Regions from separate parts of the Homo sapiens genome. Here region 2 is linked to region 1. Evidence: fine-mapped expression QTL. A gene starts in region 1. The other region holds a variant in brackets. All regions are shown on one strand. Distances are between the middles of the regions. Region 1 holds the start of DTWD2 (DTW motif tRNA-uridine aminocarboxypropyltransferase 2). Region 2 overlaps DTWD2 (DTW motif tRNA-uridine aminocarboxypropyltransferase 2).

Evidence for each region. PIP is the estimated chance that this variant, and not a neighbour inherited with it, causes the effect.
Region 2: its variant is the best candidate, but not a certain one, in a credible set for the expression of DTWD2 in CD4 T cells (BLUEPRINT, PIP 0.58).

The regions. Positions count from the first base shown.
Region 1 is chr5:118,982,336-118,992,301 of GRCh38, reverse strand. It overlaps DTWD2 (DTW motif tRNA-uridine aminocarboxypropyltransferase 2), which reads left to right and starts at 3,755. Exons shown (of 6, transcript NM_173666.4): 1 at 3,755-4,008. The coding sequence starts at 3,791. RefSeq lists a silencer at 3,842-4,171.
Region 2 is chr5:118,959,849-118,969,814 of GRCh38, reverse strand. The region is part of intron 1 of DTWD2 (DTW motif tRNA-uridine aminocarboxypropyltransferase 2); the gene reads left to right. Among named protein-coding and RNA genes, the nearest start is that of MIR1244-2, 9.8 kb to the left of the region's middle. The variant G/A (reference allele first, on the strand shown) is at 5,399.

The DNA of each region.
Region 1 (9,966 bases):
CACATATACACCATGGAATACTATGCAGCCATAAAAAAGGATGAGTTCATATCCTTTGTAGGGACATGGGTGAAGCTGGAAACCATCATTCTCAACAAACTATCGCAAGGACAGAAAACCAAACACTGCATGTTCTCACTCACAGGTGGGAATTGAACAATGAGAACACTTGGACACAGGAAGGGGAACATCACACACCAGGGCCTGTTGTGGGGTGAGGGGAGCGGGGAGGGATAGCATTAGGAGATAGACCTAATGTAAATGACGAGTTGATGGGTGCAGCACACCAACATGGCACATGTATACATATGTAACAAACCTGCATGTCGTGCACATGTACCCTAGAACTTAAAGTATAATAATAATTAAAAAAAAAAAAAGTATCCTTGATGAAGTAGCCTAAGCTGCTGCTCTGCCTGTGGAGTAGCCATTTGTTATTCTTTTGCTTGCCTAATAAACTTGGTTTTCACTTAAAAGAAAAATAAGTGGCCAGGCGCGGTGGCTCAGTCCTGTAATCCCAGCACTTTGGGAGGCCGAGGCGGGTGGATCACCTGAGGTCCGGAGTTCAAGACCAGCCTGATCAACACAGTAAAACCCTGTCTCTACTAAAAATACAGAACTGGGCCGGGCGCGGTGGCTCACGCCTGTAATCCCAGCACTTTGGGAGGCCGAGGCGGGTGGATCATGAGGTCAGGAGATCGAGACCATCCTGGCTAACAAGGTGAAACCCCGTCTCTACTAAAAATACAAAAAATTAGCCGGGCGCGGTGGCGGGCGCCTGTAGTCCCAGCTACTCGGGAGGCTGAGGCAGGAGAATGGCGTGAACCCGGGAAGCGGAGCTTGCAGTGAGCCGAGATTGCGCCACTGCAGTCCGCAGTCCGACCTGGGCAACAGAGCGAGACTCCGTCTCAAAAAAAAAAAAAAAAAAAAAAAAAAAAGAACTGGCCTGACATGGTGGCACGCAGCCTGTAGTCCCAGCTACTCGGGAGGCTGAGGCAGAATTGCTTGAACCCGGGAGGCGGAGGTCGCAGTGAGCCCAGATCACGCCACTACTCTCCAGCCTGGGCGGCAGAGCGAGACTCCATCTCAAAAAAAAAAAAAAAAACAAAGGAAAAAGCCACTAAATTTGTGGTTATTAGTTCCACAGTGATAGAAAATGAATATAGCAAAAAATACCATGTTTTTATTTCATTTAAATCAAATCTTATACAATGCTGAATCCTCATACTGCAGGCCTGGCAGGATATTCAATCCCTTACATTACTGAGGCCCTTTCCTCTACCAGTAACAGGATCTCCTTTTCCCACAACACCAGGCGTGGACCTAAGATTGTCCTCAGTCTTTACTACCCAAACTCCTCTGAGGCAAAGGAGCATAAAAGTCTGGTTTTCTACCTGAAGTTGGGAGATAAACAAAACATACATTAACACCTCAATACATTATCTTGACACTAGTAAGTTGTCTGTATCCCATAAAGGATATTTTACTTCCCTTTCTGGTGTCTTGGCACTTCCCAGAAGCTGAGTCACTGATGGTCTGATACCTGGGTCTGCCCCAAGGTGGTAACCTCACCTGCATGTTTCCTCAGGCGTCTGAAGGTCATTGTTCACAAACCTGGATATTGGGTGAATTTCTTGCTTCCTATAGAGGAAAATGGCTCTCCTTTCTCAACTCTGTGTCTTGCCTGGATGGAAGCTTTCTTTGATTTTGGTCAGCCTCTGAGACAATGGACTTGTAGGGGATTTTCTTCATAAGGAGCGGAGATGGAGCAGGAGACCACTTAGGTCTTTGGCAATATTCTATGCAAGAGATGACGGGGGCTTGAACCAGGGCAGAAGTAGTAGGTGAGATAAATGTTTGGATTTTGAATACTTTGAAGGGTAAAGCCAATAATCTGATATGGGGTGTTAAAAGGAAGCCCCAAGTAAGTAGGCTCACATCAACCTAAAAGGAAGGAGCAGAGGCAAAATTAATATAGAGAGTTTATTTGGGCCAACGTTGAGGACTGTAGCCTAGGTCGTACTTCCAGGTTGCTGTGGAGAGTGCTCTGGAGAACAAAATGGGCTGGAGTTTTTAAAGAAAAGAGAACGAATCAGCAGAGGGGGGCATTACAAAAGCTATGTCTCAGGAAGTGTCATTTATTTACAGAAATAACATTGGTTAGTGATTGGCTATACATATTGTTGAACTATAGGGTATACGGCGTTTTATGGCTACTCGGTGTCAGTCTAGGGCCTGCATAGCAAGTGCCTTCAAGAGGTAATTATTTAGCTCAAGGGAGAGTGAGACATGACTGCTCGCATTCCTTAGATAAAAAGTTTTTTTTTTTTTCCTTATCATCTGTCTTCTCACACCACACAATTGGGAGTCTCAAGGGACCTTAGAGGACTTGAGCACATTTCACCTCTTGAAATTAAAGATGAGCAGCTTCCTTTCGTTTAAAGATAAGTCACATGAGAATTTAATTTTGGCAGTTAAAGAATTGGTTCCCCAACCTAAATCTACAGACAAGATGAATTTTCTGATTCATCTCCTTTCCTACAGTTTCTGGATTTTGTTTATCCTCCGATTCCAAATGGCATAATTGCTAGTTCTTTCTCCCACTCTACGTCCATCACCAGGTGGGTGTTTCAGCCTTTTTCTATCCCTCACATAGGACGCTCCAAAGGAAAAGAGAGGTGCTGTTTCCGGGGGGAAAGAACGTAGGATAGTTGAAAACAGCACGGTATTTTATTCACAAACTTGATTTTAAGATGACTGAAAAATCTAATGTGAAATAAACATTTTAAGAAATACAGTATTTGCTCTATTACTGTGTTGTCTACTTTGCCTCACATTTAATCTATTACAACTATAGAGTTAAGACAACTGTGATTCCTAAGCTTAATTCACATGATTGATCAAAACCAAGCTTAATTCTGTTTTAATGTTGTGTATTGCTGGAAGTAACACAAAGCATTAATAAACAAAAGGAATTCGATACCCATTTTGGGTAAATAGTATTTCTGCCTTCATTCTAACATAGATTTCATTTTGGCTTTTAAAAAACAGCTGCTGTGCTATATACCGCCGTATCCAGTAGTTGTTAAATACCTGGGCAACGTTACCTTTCTAGGGCTTGTTTCCTCATACATAAAACCTATTGGTACCCCGGGCCAGCTCTCCTATTGCTTCCTGATCGGGGACGATCTAAAAATCTAATTTAACAAATATCTGGTGTCCAGTGTAAAATAGCATGCTTGATGTCTTATTAGCACAAGACATAGAAGAGCAGGAAATTCACATAAGGAAACGGACCAGCTGTGAGTAGTTCCCAGTGGATATAACCTCTCCTTTGTTGGCCTTTAAATAATAAGTGCATCAGCTGCCGCACCTGCGATGCATGCACGCGTGGAAATCCTGCAAATTCTTAAACTGCCATCCCAAGGCGGAAAATGCAGAATTCCATTTTATTTTAACTTTTAAAGGAGTTAAATTCGGGCTTGGTACTGGGGTCCTCTCGGGGAGGTTTCCCTTACCTCTCCCAATGACGCTACTTAACCTCACCAGCACTCCAACACTGCCCACACTTGCCTACCCAGTTCTAGGTGAACGGTCCCACTGGGCACGGACCAATGGGCTCGTTCCTTCCCAGCGGCAGGGTGGGACCTCCAGCCTGGGCTTCGGAGACCCGCCCCCCGTACGTGGCGTGCGGGCATTGCGCTACGCGGCGCGGGCCGGTTTCTACAGCGCGTGGCGCCCCCCGGCGGCAGCCGGGCTTCAATGCCACGGCCTGACCGGAGTGTCCGCCATGGAGTCGCAGAAAGAGGCACGAACACTCCAGGAGCCCGTTGCGCGGCCTTCTGGGGCCTCAAGCTCTCAGACGCCGAACGACAAGGAGCGGCGGGAGGGCGGCGCAGTGCCGGCGGCGGCTGCCCTGGGCGCAGAGGCGGACGACGACAGTGCGGACGGGCTGTGGGAGCTGCCGGTGGAGCCGGCCGAGCGGAGGCCTGAGTGCACCCGCTGCAGGTGACCGCGGGGCTGGGGGCGGGGACTGCAGCCGGCAGCGGCCTTCGGAGGAGGGTGCGGCGCCCCCTGCCGGGGAGTCGGCGGCTCGGGCAGCTCTGCGATTAGGGCGGCGGAGTTGGCGGGTGCACGTTGGAAATCTCGGAAATGCCAGGCACAGCTACCTAGTAAGAAGCCCTTTTTCCAGGTTCATGATTATCTAACCTTACTTCCTGCAATATGCTGAGCGTATCATGGGATGAGCAGACATCAGTTCTGTTTCCAAGAAACTTAAGCGTCCAATAGGGGAAGTAAGGGGTGATGACAGTAATACTTGTAAAATAGTTACACAGTCATATTTAAGTGGCATAGTTATATCACAGTTAAAAAGCATAAAGTGGATTGGAGGAGAGAGACAGTCTCCTTTACCTATCCTACCAGAACTCTAAATATAGGGCCTTTTCAGGTGTTCATTCTAGGTTCTCTTCAAACCCTACATACGTCCCACTGGTAATTTATAAAATCAGTTTTCATGGTAAATTATCATCTATATCCCAGTGTGTCTAGCTCAGACCTTTCTTCGGAACACCAGACCTGTGCATTAATTTATCAGGTGTTTATTGAGTGCTTTGGTAATCACTGACAATGCAGTGGAGTTCATGTTTTTGTAGAGTATTCTCTTACTGGATACGGATAATAAACCAGCAAACAAGCAATCAAATATGTAATTACAAACTGGGAAAAAAGCAGTGAAGGAAAGGAATGGGTTGCTACTGTAGAAAATAGCTCAATGGTGTCATGAACTATCTCTGAGATTTGAAAGATGAGAAGAATCCAGCCAGGGGAAAAGCATTCCAAGAAGGGGAACAGAAGGACTGAATATGGTTGAAGATCTTTACTGCTTGAATACTTGGAGTATCACACTTTGGACATTTTGACCTTTTCCTAGGGCTGGATTGTAAGACTTCAGAGGAAAGGATCTTGAATGTAGAATGTTTTTATATTTTCTAAATGTACTATGTATAGTTGACGCTCAGTAAACCTCTGAGGAGGATGGAAAATTTGTGATTAGAAGGGACTGTGAATTTGAACATAGGGGTTTGTGAATACAATTAATTTAAACAAGTCGTCTGAGGGGGTTGGGGAAGCATTTAAAAATGTTTGGAGGGGTCTCAATAGGATACTGGAGGAAAAGTGTTTCAAATATAAATCAAAGGCTAAATTACTGTGCTAGTTTTATTTAGTTTTTAGTCTGTTCAGAATTGTTAATTATAAATATATAGGTAAAAATCTGTTTAGCAGAGATTTATTTTATGATGCTTTTTTAAAAAAATGGCTTGCTGAATTTAATCTTTTTTTCAGTTACGTTTAGTTAATACCTTAGGATTACAATTTTCCCCAACATTTCTGCACTTTGCTTATTTCTGGTGAAATTTGCTACCTGTGAAAAGCTCTCCTCCCTCTTGCTATGCATTTTATTTGCTTTAATTAGGTAGACTATAATTCTACACTTTGCTTATTTCTTGTGAAATTTGCTACCTGTGAAAAGCTCTCCTCCCTCTTGCTATGCATTTTATTTGCTTTAACTAGGTAGAATATAATTCTAGAATTATGGAGAATATTTAGGTGTTGTCAATAAAATATAAATGAATTGATGGCTTTTTATATTTTATTTCATTATGCTATTAGAGTTCTACTAGTACCCTGGGTGAACTTCTTTACATTTATGGTTAAAATAGTTTTAAAAATGCATTCTTAGATTTGATTGATCATTGAGTCACAGTTATTTGGCTATTTACTTAAACTGTATTCATTTCTCTGAACACATTACTACAAATGTCACAGCCTAGGGGAGTTCCAGAAATTAGCTTTGTTCAGGAAGTGCAAACTCAGTTTAACTTTTCAGCAGAATCTTGCTCATTATAAATATAACATATCTTAAATATGAATGGAATATTCTTTAAAAGATCCCAAACTTGTAATTTATTATTGCAAGATATAGATTCTATAAATGTATTCTGTCCTTTATGTATGTCTTGTTTACAAAACCTGCCTGTATTCCATTTACCTCTTAGAATACCTTTCCTATCCCCCATTCCCAAACGTATATAATTTTTTTTTTCAGATAAAGACAAAACCTTGGCTGATCTCCCCAGAGTATGTATCATTAGCATTATTTGAGATAACATAAGAAGGCTGAGGGTCATGGGACATGGTAGGTGCACAAAAGATTTGTTGAACTACTTGGTAAAATTCAGTTGTTCAACAAATATTTTTGGAGACCCTTCTTCCAGACGGTGTGATAGGCTATGAAATACAAAGATGAAAAAGAGATGACTTCAGTTCTCCTGAATATCAGGATCTAGTGGAAAGTGGCATATCTATTTAAATGGGGAGCCCTCAGATTAAAAATCCTATGATGTAGGGCAGTTTTTTCAAATTATAGGTAATGAACCGCATCAAATTTTTGAAGCTCTGAAGAAAACAGCAAAAAGTGTTTTCTGAACTTTTCAAAGTAAAAGTATTTGTAAAATAACTTTGTTCAAGTTAAAATCATCTTGCTAATTTAAACATTCTTATTTAAATTATATGACATCAGAGTGGAAAGATTTAAACACTTTTTATATGTGTTTGATATCCTTTGGCAGTCTTCGAAATTAGGCCGTCGTGGAGTAAGAGTCAGAAGGCAAAAGGATGCATGTTCACCAAGTAGTGCTTCTGAGATTTTACTAGAGTCTTTAATTTTGTTAGGAAATAAAGTGTAATATACGTGTGTATATGTATGTATATATGTGTGTGTATATATATATATATATATATATATATAAAAATGCACATAAGCATGTGGTCTTTTTCTTGTTGAATTCTATACTATCAGCTTCTTTCTTAGATGGGTATATGTAAGGTGTTATAGGAACATATAAAAAGGTGCTCCTAACCCTAAGTTTGTATGGTGGAGATGAGGAAAAGATCTGGGAAATCTTGGAAGTGACATGTAAGCTGAGACTGAAGGACATAACGAAATATTTAATCTGGATTCTAATATTTAGGATTAATTAGGGAAGAGACTGGCTGAGGAGAGGGCTTGAGGGAGGAAAAAGTGAGCTCTGGTTGAGGAAACAGTATGTACGAGAGTTTAGTGTATAGAATATATAGTGTATTTGGGGAGTTTGGGAGAAGGGAGGGAGTGGTGAGAGACGAGGCTGCAGAGATTAGTGGTGGTTGCCCCAGGAAGGGCAAAATAAACTATGTCAGGGAGTTTGGGCCTAATGCTCTATAACCCAACAAGCCAGCCACTGTAATATTTTTATATTTGAAAGGTGGTGACAAGTTTGACTTTTGTACATGACTTTTGCTGTATAATTTATACTTTTTTATTTTATAAAAAAAGCAACTGGATGGTGATAAAAGGGTACAAGCTTGACTGGGAAGAATTAGGGCCTCATTCCAGAAATATTTTAGGCATCTTAATTATACTTTTATATCTTCTGTAGTTACTGCTATGCATTTGAGGATGAGTCATAAACCACTTGCAAATCATTGGTCATAGGAATAATGGAATAATGTCTAAAAACAGCATGTTTTAAAACCTGTTTAAGGGAAGAAACAGCAGGGAGAGCATGCACACAAACTGAATCAGATAGACCCTGAGATGGAAGTTTTTGTCTCTCCAGTGTTTTCTTTTCAAAAGTAACAAGCTGTAAGAATTATAATACACCATATCTATGTATTTAACACCCATTTACTAAACACCAGCCATCTGCCAGGCACATACTAGGCCTAGATATTTTATATATGATAATATTTTATTTAGTTCTTGTAACAAACTTTTAGATTGCTGCTTTTTTTTTTTTTTTGAAACGGAGTCTTGCTCTGTCACCCAGGCTGGATTGCAGTGGCGCAATCTCAGCTCACTGCAACCTCTGCCTCCCAGGTTCAAACCATTCTCCTGCTTCAGCCTCCAGAGTAGCTGGGACTACAGGTGCCTGCCACCACGCCTGGCTAAGTTTTGTATTTTTTTTTTTTTGAGATGGAGTTTTTGCTCTTGTTGCCCAGGCTGCAGTGCAATGGCATGATCTTGGCTGACCGCAACCTCTGCCACCCAGGTTCAAGCGATCCTCCTGCCTCAGCCTCCTGAGTAGCTGGGATTACAGGCATGCATCACCACCACGCCTCACTAATTTTGTATTTTTAGTAGAGATGGGGCTTCTCCATGTTGGTCAGGCTGGTCTCGAGCTTCCAACCTCAGGTGATCCGCCTGCCTTGGCCTCCCAAAGTGCTGGGATTACAGGCGTGAGCCACTGCGCCCAGCCTAGGTTTTGTATTGTTAGTAGAAGCAGGTTTTCTGCCCTGTTGGTCAGGCTGGTCTCGAACTCCTGACCTCAGGTGAGCCGCCTGCTTCAGCCTCCCAAGGTACTGGGATTACAGGTGAGAGCCACCGCGCCCAGCTACTGTTTGCTTTTAAATGATGAGGAAATACAGGTAACAGGCAGGTAGCAGAATTGGGTCTCTAGCTCCAGTCCACTTGGTTCCCTAGCTCATGCAAGTACTTGATCTCACTCCAGGCTCCTTGCTGAAGAAGCGTTAAGATTTTGTTTGCACAGTAGGTATTATCACCAGTTGAAATGGCATCACTAAGTCTGCAAGATTTTCAGACTTTTTAAGTTAGTAACAGGATGCTGAGTTTTGGTATTTTCTCTGGCTTTTTAATTCCACATATCATTACCTTTTCCTTATTCTTTAGGCTTGGATATTCTGGAGGAAAAAGTGATGGGAGGAACATCATAAGAGAGAGAGAGAGAGAGAAAATGGGGAAAGGAGAGAGAGAAGGGAAGAGTGCAGGTGTTTAAGAAGAATGCACGAGCCACAAACTGGCACTCTACAGATGTTTTGCTTTGAACTGTGTTTTATCAGCTTTTAAATTAGTTGTTAATAGTTCAAAATCAAGATGTTTCATATAAAAATCCAGATTTCTGGCTTTTGTGACAGTGGGAAGATCTGACAGCTTCAGAGACCACCTTCCTGAGCAGCAGTTGGTTAAGCTCAGTATTATTGGCTGTGCCCGTATATTGGGCATGATCTCTCCAGGTCACTGTAGCTCCCAGTCGTTCCTGCTTAACTCATTTGTGGTTAACTGCTGGCCCCCTATAGGCATTTATGTTTTGATTCTGGGTCTCCTGTACATCATTGTGGTTGTCTGACTGAGCAACTGGTAAATCAGTCTTCAAATTTGGTGGGAAAAGTGAAAAATGGTAATTCCTAGGGTAGTTAATGTAGAATAACTGAAACTGTTGAATCAGTATCAGCACTTAGAAAATAAACTATTTTGGGCCAGGCACAGTGGCTCATGCCTGTAGTCCCAGCACTTTGGGAGGCTGAGGCGGATGGATCACAAGGTCAGAGGAGATCGAGACCAGCCTGACCAGCATGGTGAAACCCTGTCTCTACTAAAAATACTAAAATTAGCCGGGCGTGGTGGTGAGTGCCTGTAATCCCAGCTACTTGGGAGGCTGAGGCAGGAGAATCGCTTGAACTTGGGAGGCGGAGGTTGCAGTGAGCCAAGATTGCTCCACTGCACTCCAGCCTCGGCGACAGAGCGAAACTCCGTCTCAAAAAAAAAAAAAAAAAAAAGAAAACAAACTATTTTGGTAAATTTAAAATCAGCTAGATTATTGATAACTTTTAGGGTAAAAATTTGGGTATTCTGAAGTTTAATTTTTGTATATATCAAAGATATATTCTCAAGAGAAAATTATTATATTAGTTTGTTCTTTCCTGTTAGTATAGAAAATATGTTTATTCTTTGAAATAGTTTATTCATAATATATGTGGAAAGCTAACTGATTTACAAATCATTGTGCAGGCTAATTGTATGTCCAAAGTTAAGCAATGATATATGTCAAGAGGGAATTTTTTCATAACCTTAATTAAGTCTTCAAAGAGGAATGGCCAGTTTTAAAAACCACATTAGAGCTTTCTAAG
Region 2 (9,966 bases), 22 kb after region 1:
TCTGTACCCATGCTGGAGAGGTGTTGCAGTCATCTGGAGTCACTCTGGATTTTTGAGTTTTCAGCGTTTTTGCATTGATTCTTCCTCATCTTTGTGGGCTTATCTACCTTCTATCTTTGAGGTTGCTGACCTTTGAATGGTGTTTTTGTGGGATCTTCTTTGTTGATGTTATTGTTGTTGTTATTGTTTTCCGTTCGTTTGTTTTTCTTTTAACAGGTCACTCTTCCATAGGGCTGCTGTGGTTGTTGGGGTTCCACTCCAGACCCTAATCTCCTTGGTCCTCCCACACCTGGAGATATTACCGGTGAAGGCTGCAAAACAGCAAAGGTGACAGCCTCCTCTTTCTTCTCGGAGCTTTGTCCCAGGGGCACACTGAACAGATGTTGGCCTGAATGCTCCTGTAGAAGGTGTCTGGAGCCCCTACTGGGAGTTCTCACCCAGTCAGGGGGAACAGGATCAGGGACCTGCTTAAAGAAGCAGTCTGGCTGCCCTTTGGCTGAGTGGGTGTGCTGAGCTGAGGGGAATCCTCCTTGTACAGACTGCCTGGACTCTCCAGAGCCAGCAGGCTGGAAAGGCTAAGTTGGCTGAACTGCAAATACAGTCACCGCTTCCCCCCCGCCCCTCCCCTCTTGGTGGCTCAGTCCCAGGGAGTGATCAGAGATCTGTTCATATAACTCAGGCTAGTGTAGCTGAAATTCCTGCAGGGAAGCCCCACCTAGTGAGGAGGGATGAAGCAGGGTCCCACTTAGAGGAGCAGTCTGACCACAGTCTGCTGTGTTGTGGAAAACTCTTCCCGTTCCAGACCTCCTGGACTCCCCAGAGGAGCCGGCAGGCTGGAACCACAGAGATGGCAGCTGCCCCCACTCCCAAGCCCCTCAGGAACTTGGTTCATTTCAGGCAGTCTCCAGCTTCCTGCCACTGGCCAGCTGGAATTCCAAGCCAGTGGGTGTTAACATGTGAGGTGCCATGGGAGTGGGGCCTGCAGAACGATGCTGCTTGGCCCCCTGGATTCAGCCCCCTTCCTAGGGGAAGGCATGGATGGATTTCCCGCCTTGCTGGAATTCCCAGGGCCAGAGTATGCAAAATTCCTGGGTCTCTGTGCATACCAGAGCCACTCTGTTGAGACTCCGCATAGCGCTATGCTTTGGACCCAAGGTCCTGGTGGTGTGGGCTCAGGGGGGGATCTCCTGATCTGCAGGTTGCAAAGATCTATGGGAAAAACGTGGTTTCCTGGGTGGGGTCGCACACTCACTGCCTCCCTTGGCTGGGGTAGGGCCTTCCCTGGCTTCAGAAGGGGCCGTCTCCCCACCCTGCTTTTCCTCACTCTCTGTGGGTTTAGCCATCCACCTAGTGAGTCCCAGTGTGAGAACCTGGATACCTCAGTTGAAGGTTCAGAATTTCATTTGCCGTTTTCATTCTTCTCTGTGATAGCCACTGACTGCAGCTGCTTCTGGTACAGTACTGTTAACTATGTTCAGAATTCACCAGTTTTTCCACTCAAGTTCATTTTTTTCTGGTTCAGTATCTAACTCAGCATCCCACATTGCATTAATTGTCATGTCTTGTTAGTCCTCTCTAGTTTGTGATGATTCCTTAGGTTTTTCTTTTTTTTTTTTTCACGATTTTGTTACTTTTGAAGAATACTGGTCAGTTATTTTGTAGAATGTCTCTCAAGTTGGGTTTGACTTATGATTTCTCATGATTACAGCAAGGTTATACATTTTTGGTAAGACTAGCTACAAATTAATAGTCTAAAAATACTATATTTTTAGCAAATATATCAGAGGTACATGATATCAATATGCATTATTCTTGGCGAAATTAACATAGATCATTTGGTTAATGTAGTCTCTGCTGTGTTTTTCTACTATGCAGTTACTCCTGTTCCCTTTGTAGTTAATAAATATCTTGGGGAGGAATTTACTTTGAGACTTTGCAAATATACTGTTTCTGCTCAAATTTTTGCCCACTGATTTTAGTATCCATCTTGTCTGCAACAATTATGGCTATGGTGCTCTGATGGTGATTCTCTATTTTCCCCATTCTTTCTACATTTATTGATTGGAATGTTTCTATATGGAAGAGCTGTGTCTTTTTCTCCCCATTTATTTATTTATTCAGTTATTTGCTTATATCTGTATGGAATTATGGATATTTATTTTATTACTGGATTATAATCCAATACTATTTTTATTTCTTTTATTGCTCAAATTGTTCCCTCCTGGGTCATTGAGAACTCTTTCAGGTTGGTTCCTGGAACCTTTTGACAGGCTTATCCTTTTTTGAGAACTTTCTTACTTTCTGACACTGTAAGATGATCCAGGCTTATCTTATATTTTCCCTGCCCCAGCCCTAGAATCAACCACTTTTTCAGGAAGCCCTGGTTTATTGTAAAATGATATTCAAAACCAAGATCCGGGTGCTTGGTGTGCTTATTGCTACTGAGATGTTTATCTTATTAGTGGACAGATCTAGGATTTCTGTGTATATACTAACCCATGCATATACCTATATCTATTTCTAAATCTATATGTACACCTACACTTATGTAAAGAAACCATGAGTTTCATCCAATACCACAGAGTTCATTCTAGTCTTCCTCCCTTCTCTAATTGTAGTTTATTTCTTTGACAGTAAGAAATCTGACTCTCTTTATCTGCAACATGTTTGATTATTTGTTCAACCCTAATCTACACATACAGTTGTTTTGGAATTGCGAACCCATACTTCTGTTACTATTTGACTTTTTTTTTTTTTGAGTTACTGATTGTCTTTTTTTTTTTTTGAGATGGAGTCCCCCTCTGTTGCTCTGCTGGAGTGCAGTGGCGTAATCTTGGCTCACTGCAACCTCTACCTCCCAGGTTCAAGAGATTCTCCTGCTTTAGCCTCCCAAGTAGCTGGGACTTACAGGCACCTGCCACCGTGCCTGGCTAATTTTTGTATTTTTAATAGAGACGGGGTTTCACCACATTGGTCAGGCTGTTCTCGCACTCCTGACCTCAGGTGATCCTCACACCTCAGCCTCTCAAAGTGCTGGGATTACAGGTGTGAGCCACTGTGCCTGGCCTCTGATTGACTTTTAATTTGTAATTATGGAGAACTGTTAGGGAAAGCAACATACTAGGAGATGGATTTTGATAGTGATAACTTTTATCAGTTTAATTAACTTAGGTATCATTCCTATCAACTTTTCCTTCTATAGTTTACTTTGCCTTATGTAATGTACTAAAGATATAAGACTGGCATTATAGCATATCATCAACTAATTTGCCTGAGTATGATCATAAGAAAATATTAAACATCTTTTCTGTTGCAAAGATCTAAAAACCACAGATTGTTGGAGTAACTTTGAGGTGACAGATATTCAATGCTTCTTAAAAATATATATTTTTTCTGAACACAAAAGAGGTGTATACTCAGAAGAAAAAGTCACACTTTACAGAAATAAATGAAACATACAGAAATTCCTCATAACCCTTTATGACAACCACTGCGCACCCACATATACCAGATAACTGTTCAATGCTTTTTTAAACTTGAACATTTTATCATATTTTTTGAGGTTTACTTTTGTAAATTTGCCAGAATGATAAACGGCCAAATCCCACTGTACATCTAGGAAACTAATACAGATGTTAGGAGAAATTGTGGGATTTTGATAGTATTAAGGTATTTTTCTGGGCAGGGTTTTTTTCTAGGCAATGCATGACTGCACCCAAACCGTAGCTGATATCTTTATGAGTTTCTCAAGAGAAATAGTGGTATGTGCATAATGCCCAGTGGCAAGTGAAAAACAAGGAATTAAGAGATACTTCTTCCTGGCATCTCTTTTTTTTTTTCTTTTTCTTTTATTTATTTATTTATTTTTATTTATTTTTTTTATTGATCATTCTTGGGTGTTTCTCGCAGAGGGGGATTTGGCAGGGTCACAGGACAACAGTGGAGGGAAGGTCAGCAGACAAACAAGTGAACAAAGGTTTCTGGTTTTCCTAGGCAGAGGACCCTGGGGCCTTCCGCAATGTTTGTATCCCTGGGCACTTGAGATTAGGGAGTGGTGATGACTCTTAACGAGCATGCTGCCTTCAGGCATCTGTTTAACAAAGCACATCTTGCACCGCCCTTAATCCATTTAACCCTGAGTGGACACAGCACATGTTTCAGAGAGCACCGGGTTGGGGGTAAGGTCATAGATCTTACACCATACCCCAACAGCATCCCAAGGCAGAAGAATTTTTCTTAGTACAGAACAAAATGGAGTCTCCTATGTCTACTTCTTTCTACACAGACACAGCAACAATCTGATTTCTCTATCTTTTCCCCACATTTCCCCCTTTTGTATTCGACAAAACCGCATCATCATCATGGCCCGTTCTCAGTGAGCTGTTGGATACACCTCCCAGACGGGGTGGCGGCCGGGCAGAGGGGCTCCTCACTTCCCAGAAGGGGCGGCCGGGCAGAGGCGCCCCTCACCTCCCGGACGGGGTGGCGGCTGAGCGGAGACGCCCCCCACCTCCCGGACGGGGAGGCTGGCCGGGCGGGGGCTGCCCCCCACCTCCCGGACGGGGCGGCTGTCGGGCGGAGATGCTCCTCACTTCCCAGATGGGGCGGCTGCTGGGCGGAGGGGCTCCTCACTTCTCAGACAGGGCAGCTGCCGGGCGGAGGGGCTCCTTACTTCTCAGACGGGGCAGCTGGGCAGAGACGCTCCTCACCTCCCAGACGGGGTTGCGGCCGGGCAGTGGTGCTCCTCACATCCCAGACGGGGCGGCGGGGCAGAGGTGCTCCCCACATCTCAGACGATGGGCGGCCGGGCAGAGATGCTCCTCACTTCGTAGATGGGATGGCGGCCGGGAAGAGGCGCTCCTCACTTCCCAGACTGGGCAGCCGGGCAGAGGGGCTCCTCACATCCCAGACGATGGGCGGCCAGGCAGAGATGCTCCTCACTTCCCAGACGGGGTGGTGGCCGGGCAGAGGCTGCAATCTCGGCACTTTGGGAGGCCAAGGCAGGCGGCTGGGAGGTGGAGGTTGTAGCGAGCCGAGATCACGCCACTGCACTCCAGCCTGGGCAACATTGAGCACTGAGTGAACGAGACTCCATCTGCAGTCCTGGCACCTCGGGAGGCCGAGGCTGGCAGATCATTCGTGGTTAGGAGCTGGAGACCAGCCCGGCCAACACAGCGAAACCCCGTCTCCACCAAAAAAATACGAAAACCAGTCAGGCGTGGCGGCACGCGCCTGCAATCGCAGGCATTCGGCAGGCTGAGGCAGGAGCATCAGGCAGGGAGGTTGCAGTGAGCAGAGATGGCGGCAGTACAGTCCAGCTTCGGCTCGGCATCAGAGGGAGACCGTGGATAGAGAGGGAGACAGAGACTGTGGGGAGAGGGAGAGGGAGAGGGAGACC[G/A]TGGGGAGAAGGAGAGGGAGAGGGAGAGGGCAAAGTAGAGGAATTTTCCCCTGGCATCTCTTTCAGCCACCAAATGACCACAACTTGGTGCCTTATATGAAGTATAATTTGGAACCAATCTCATCCTGAAGTCATATCTCATTAATGAGTAAACACATCTGAGATGTTTCATTCTGCAAATTTTTTTTTTTTTTTTTTTGAGATGGAGTCTTGCTCTGTTGCTCAGGTTGGAGTGTAGTGGTGCAATCTCGGCTCACTGCAACCACCGCAACTCCACCTTCTGAGTTCAAGTGATTCTCCTGCCTCAGCCTCCCAAGTAGCTGGAATTACAAGCGTGAGCCACCACGCCTGGCTAATTTTTGTATTTTTAATAGAGATGAGGTTTTACCATGTTGGCCAGGCTGGTCTTGAACACCTGACCTCAAGTGGTCCACACGCCTCGGCCTCCCAAAGTACTGGGATTACAGGTGTGAAGCACTGCACCTGGCCTGCAAATGCTTATATCTTCTTTCACCAAGTTAGGTACTGGGGGTATTAAAATGAATGAAGGTTGGTTGTTACCATAAGGATCTTTAAGGGAAGAAACACAGGTAAGCCAATAATTGTAATATAACATGAATAGTGTGATTTAGGAGTGCAGAGGTGGGAGGGACCCCTGCTTGGAACTTTACAGGGGAGGTGGTATTTAAACTACTCTTTAGTACCTGGCTTCTCTCTGTGCCATCACTCGGCAATGAATTTTTTCAGTCCTGTGCTAATTGAAGTAGTTTTCTAAACTCCATTTTGTCATCTGTTCAATTCCCTTTTAATGAAGTTCTTTATATTTTTAACATGTCTGTCTGCTCATTTTATTCCTTTCCTGGAGAACTTCAATGCTTATATTTTAGGTAAAGAAGGGAGTTCAGAATCTTTTGTGTAACATCCAAGTCCTGCAGGTCAGTCCTCAGCCTGTCCACTCATCTCTTCCTCCTCCATACACCCCTTTCTCCAGCTACACTGAACTGCTCCCCCAAAACAGGTGCTTTTTAATGTTTGGCTCCATGCCTTTGTTCTGTTATTCTGTCTCTGTGAAAAGCTCCTCCCTCATCTGTGCTTTCTGCAATCATACTCTATTTCAAGGTCCAGCTCAAGTTCCATGTCTTGCATGAAACCATTTCTTATCCTTCTAGCTATCTCCCAAGTTTGAATAGTTTCTTCTTCTAACTCCTCACTTTGTCTTTTTTCTCTACTATATTGTTAGCTTCCTGTGGGTCAGCCTCTTCGTATTTCTTACGGTATCTTTAACCACATATCCTTAATTACTTTTTAGCCATTTTATACTGAGGAATTTTATGAATATCTTGGCTTTGATCTTTTGCTTCTGGATCCTCTTTAGACCCTCACGTTTGTTTATTTATCTCTAAATGTTTTAATTCTAGTGCTAGGTCTTCTGGGTTCTAGGACAGCTGGATAGAACTATGTGTTAAGACTTTTCATTGAACATTAACTGCTTATGTGGACTCAGTCAAATGTGTTGATTAAAGGCATGCATTTTGGAATCAGACAGAACCAAGCTCTAGCCCCAGCTCTGTTTTCTCTTGAAAAAGTTACTTAACCTCTCTAAGCCTTAGTTTCATCATCTTTAAGTTAGGCTAAAAATACTACCTCCTGCTGACAGGTTTTGTGAGAATTAAAGTATTTAGCATAGTGCCTAAAACATAAAAGTGTGCAATAAATGTTAAATTCTTTGTCTTTACCTGTCCCTTCTTTTCCTCTCCCTTCTCCTTTTCATTCCCTCTTTTATTTTTACTCCCTAATCCCACTTCCTTTTTCTTCTCCATGAAATATCATTACTGTTTATGAAATTAGTCTGTTTTGCTAATATCCAGCTTCTTTTAGGATTTTTTTTTGGATTCAGAAGTTATCGGCAAATTAATAATTTTTCATGTGTTAATGCGGCAGGTCACCATAAATAAATTGCCTCGTGATGGGAATTTTGTCATTCTGGTACTTTCAGTTGTACTCAATTCTTAGCTGTATATAGGTGTTGCATTGATGAAAACCACTTTTTTAGGGGAAAGGCATCAAAATCAGTGGCTTATTTGTAGCACTATTGTATTCTCTTATATAGTAATGTAATACTAACCTAAATCTTAATGTATTTTCTCTAATTTATAGCAAATAATTTTCTTTTTTTTTGAGACAGAGTTTTGCTCTTGTTGCCCAGGCTGGAGTGCAATGGCGTGATCTCGGCTCACCACAATCTCTGCCTCCCAGGTTCAAGCAATTCTCCTGCCTCAGCCTCCTGAGTAGCTGGGATTACAGGCATGCACCACCATGCCCAGCTAATTTTGTATTTTTAGTAGAGATGGGGTTTCTCCATGTTGAGACTGGTCTCGAACTCCTGACCTCAGATGATCCTCCCGCCTCAGCCTCCCAAAGTGCTGGGATTACCGGCATGAGCCACTGCGCCTGGCAGCAAAGAAAATTTTTAACTCTCAAAATCAATGGCTTATTCATAGCACTATTATATGCTCTTATGTAGTAATGTAATACTAACCTAAATCAATATATTTTCTTTACTTTGTAGCAAAGAAAATTTTTAACTGTCTTTGTGCTTTTTTGAGAAAATGGACATTGATGTAAAATGAGGAAGTATGCCCCCCCCAATAAAGCAAGTATACAAAAATCAGTGTTTTAAAATATAGACAGTTTTTAGATAAGAAAAGGAGATGAGAGAATAAGCAAAATATTCTATGCAGAATATCTTTACTTTAATCTTTGATTCCTGCTTATAAGGATGGATGTTCATGCAGCCAGTGAATAAGGAGCAGAGGATTCTGCTACATGAGGACCGGCAGGCTCAGTTTGAATAAATCATGTGGACATTCTTTATTTGTCCAATCATTATTTATTCAATATCTAGTACCCAGGAAATGCACAGCTGGGATAATACAAAAATGATTAAGAAATTGTTTCCTTTAGAACATATAGTGAATTAAGTATGAGAGAAAACATGTCTAAGTAATATTTAAGACAAACTATGGAAATATAAAATAATAGTTTGCAGAGGAAAGAGTGATTAAATTAATTTGCTGTTAAGAAAGCTGTTTGCTATATTTTATATTTGTTTATATTTCTATAAAAAGAAAGGAAGTAAGTAATAGGTTAACTGAACGTGAGATGATTATGATAAGATTCTCAGTCTTAGTTGATCCATAACTGTCATCACAGTTTTAGTAGGGGCTTTTCTAGCTGCTGTATATATTCATCTCTCTAGACATGAGACGTTTGTTCTCTAGGCATCTGGCCTCTCTTAAGCTTTCTCAATTATAACACTCACTAAAACTTTTTTTTTTAACTTTTAGTTTTGGGGGTACATGTGCAGGTTGGATCTATAGATAAATTGTGTATCATGGGGGTTTTATGTACATATTATTTTGTCACCCAGGTAAGTAGCATAGTATCTACTAGGTAATTTTTTGATCCTCACCCTCTTCCCACCCTCCACCCTCAATTAGGCCTCAATGTCTATTGTTTCCTTCTTGGCATCCATGTGTACTCAGTGTTTAGCTCCCACTGATAAGTGAGAATATGCAGTGTTTGGTTTTCTGTTCTTGCGTTAGTTCACTTAGGATAATGGCCTCCAGCTCCATGTTGCTCTAAAGGACATGATTTTGTTTTTTTTTATGGCTGCATACTATTCCATGGTATATATGTACCACATTTTCTTTATCCAGTCTACCACTGATGCTCATTTAGGTTAATTACATGTCTTTCCTTTGGTGAATAGGGCTGCATTGAACATACATGTGCATGGGTCTTTATGGTAGAAGAGTTTATATTCCTTTGGGTATATACCCAATAATGGGATTGCTGGATGGAATGTTAATTCTGTTTTAAGTTCTTTGAGAAATTGCTAAACCGCTTTCCATAGTGTCTGAGCTAATTTACATTCCCACCAGCAGTATATAAGCATTCCCTTTTATCTGCAGTCTTGCCAGCATCTCTTGTTTTTTTGACATTTTAATAGTAGCCATTCTTACTGGTGTGAGCTGGTATGTCATTGTGATTTTGATTTGCATTTCTCTGGTGATTAGTGATGTTGAGCATTTTTTCATATGCTTCTTTGCCGTATATATGTCTCATTTTGAAAAATGTTTATGTCTTTTGCTCACATTTTAATGGGTTTTTTTTGCTTGTAGATTTAAGTTTCTTGTAGATTCTGAATATTAGACCTTTGTCAGATGCATAGTTTGCAAATATTTTCTCCCATTTTGTGAGTTGTCTGTTTACTCTGTTGATAAGTTTCTTTTGCTTTGCAGAAACTTTTTAATTAAGTCCCATTTGTCAATTTTAATTTTTGTTGCAGTTGCTTTTAGCATCTTCATCATAAATTCTTTGCCAGTGCCTAGTCTATAGTGGTGTTTTCTAGTTTATCTTTCAGGATTTTTATAGTTTTAGGTTTTACATTGAAGTTTTTAATCCATCTTGATTGACTTTTATATATGGTGTAAGGAAGAGGTCTAGTTTCAGTCTTCTGCATACAGCTAGCTACTTATCCCAGCACCATTTATTGAATAGGGAAT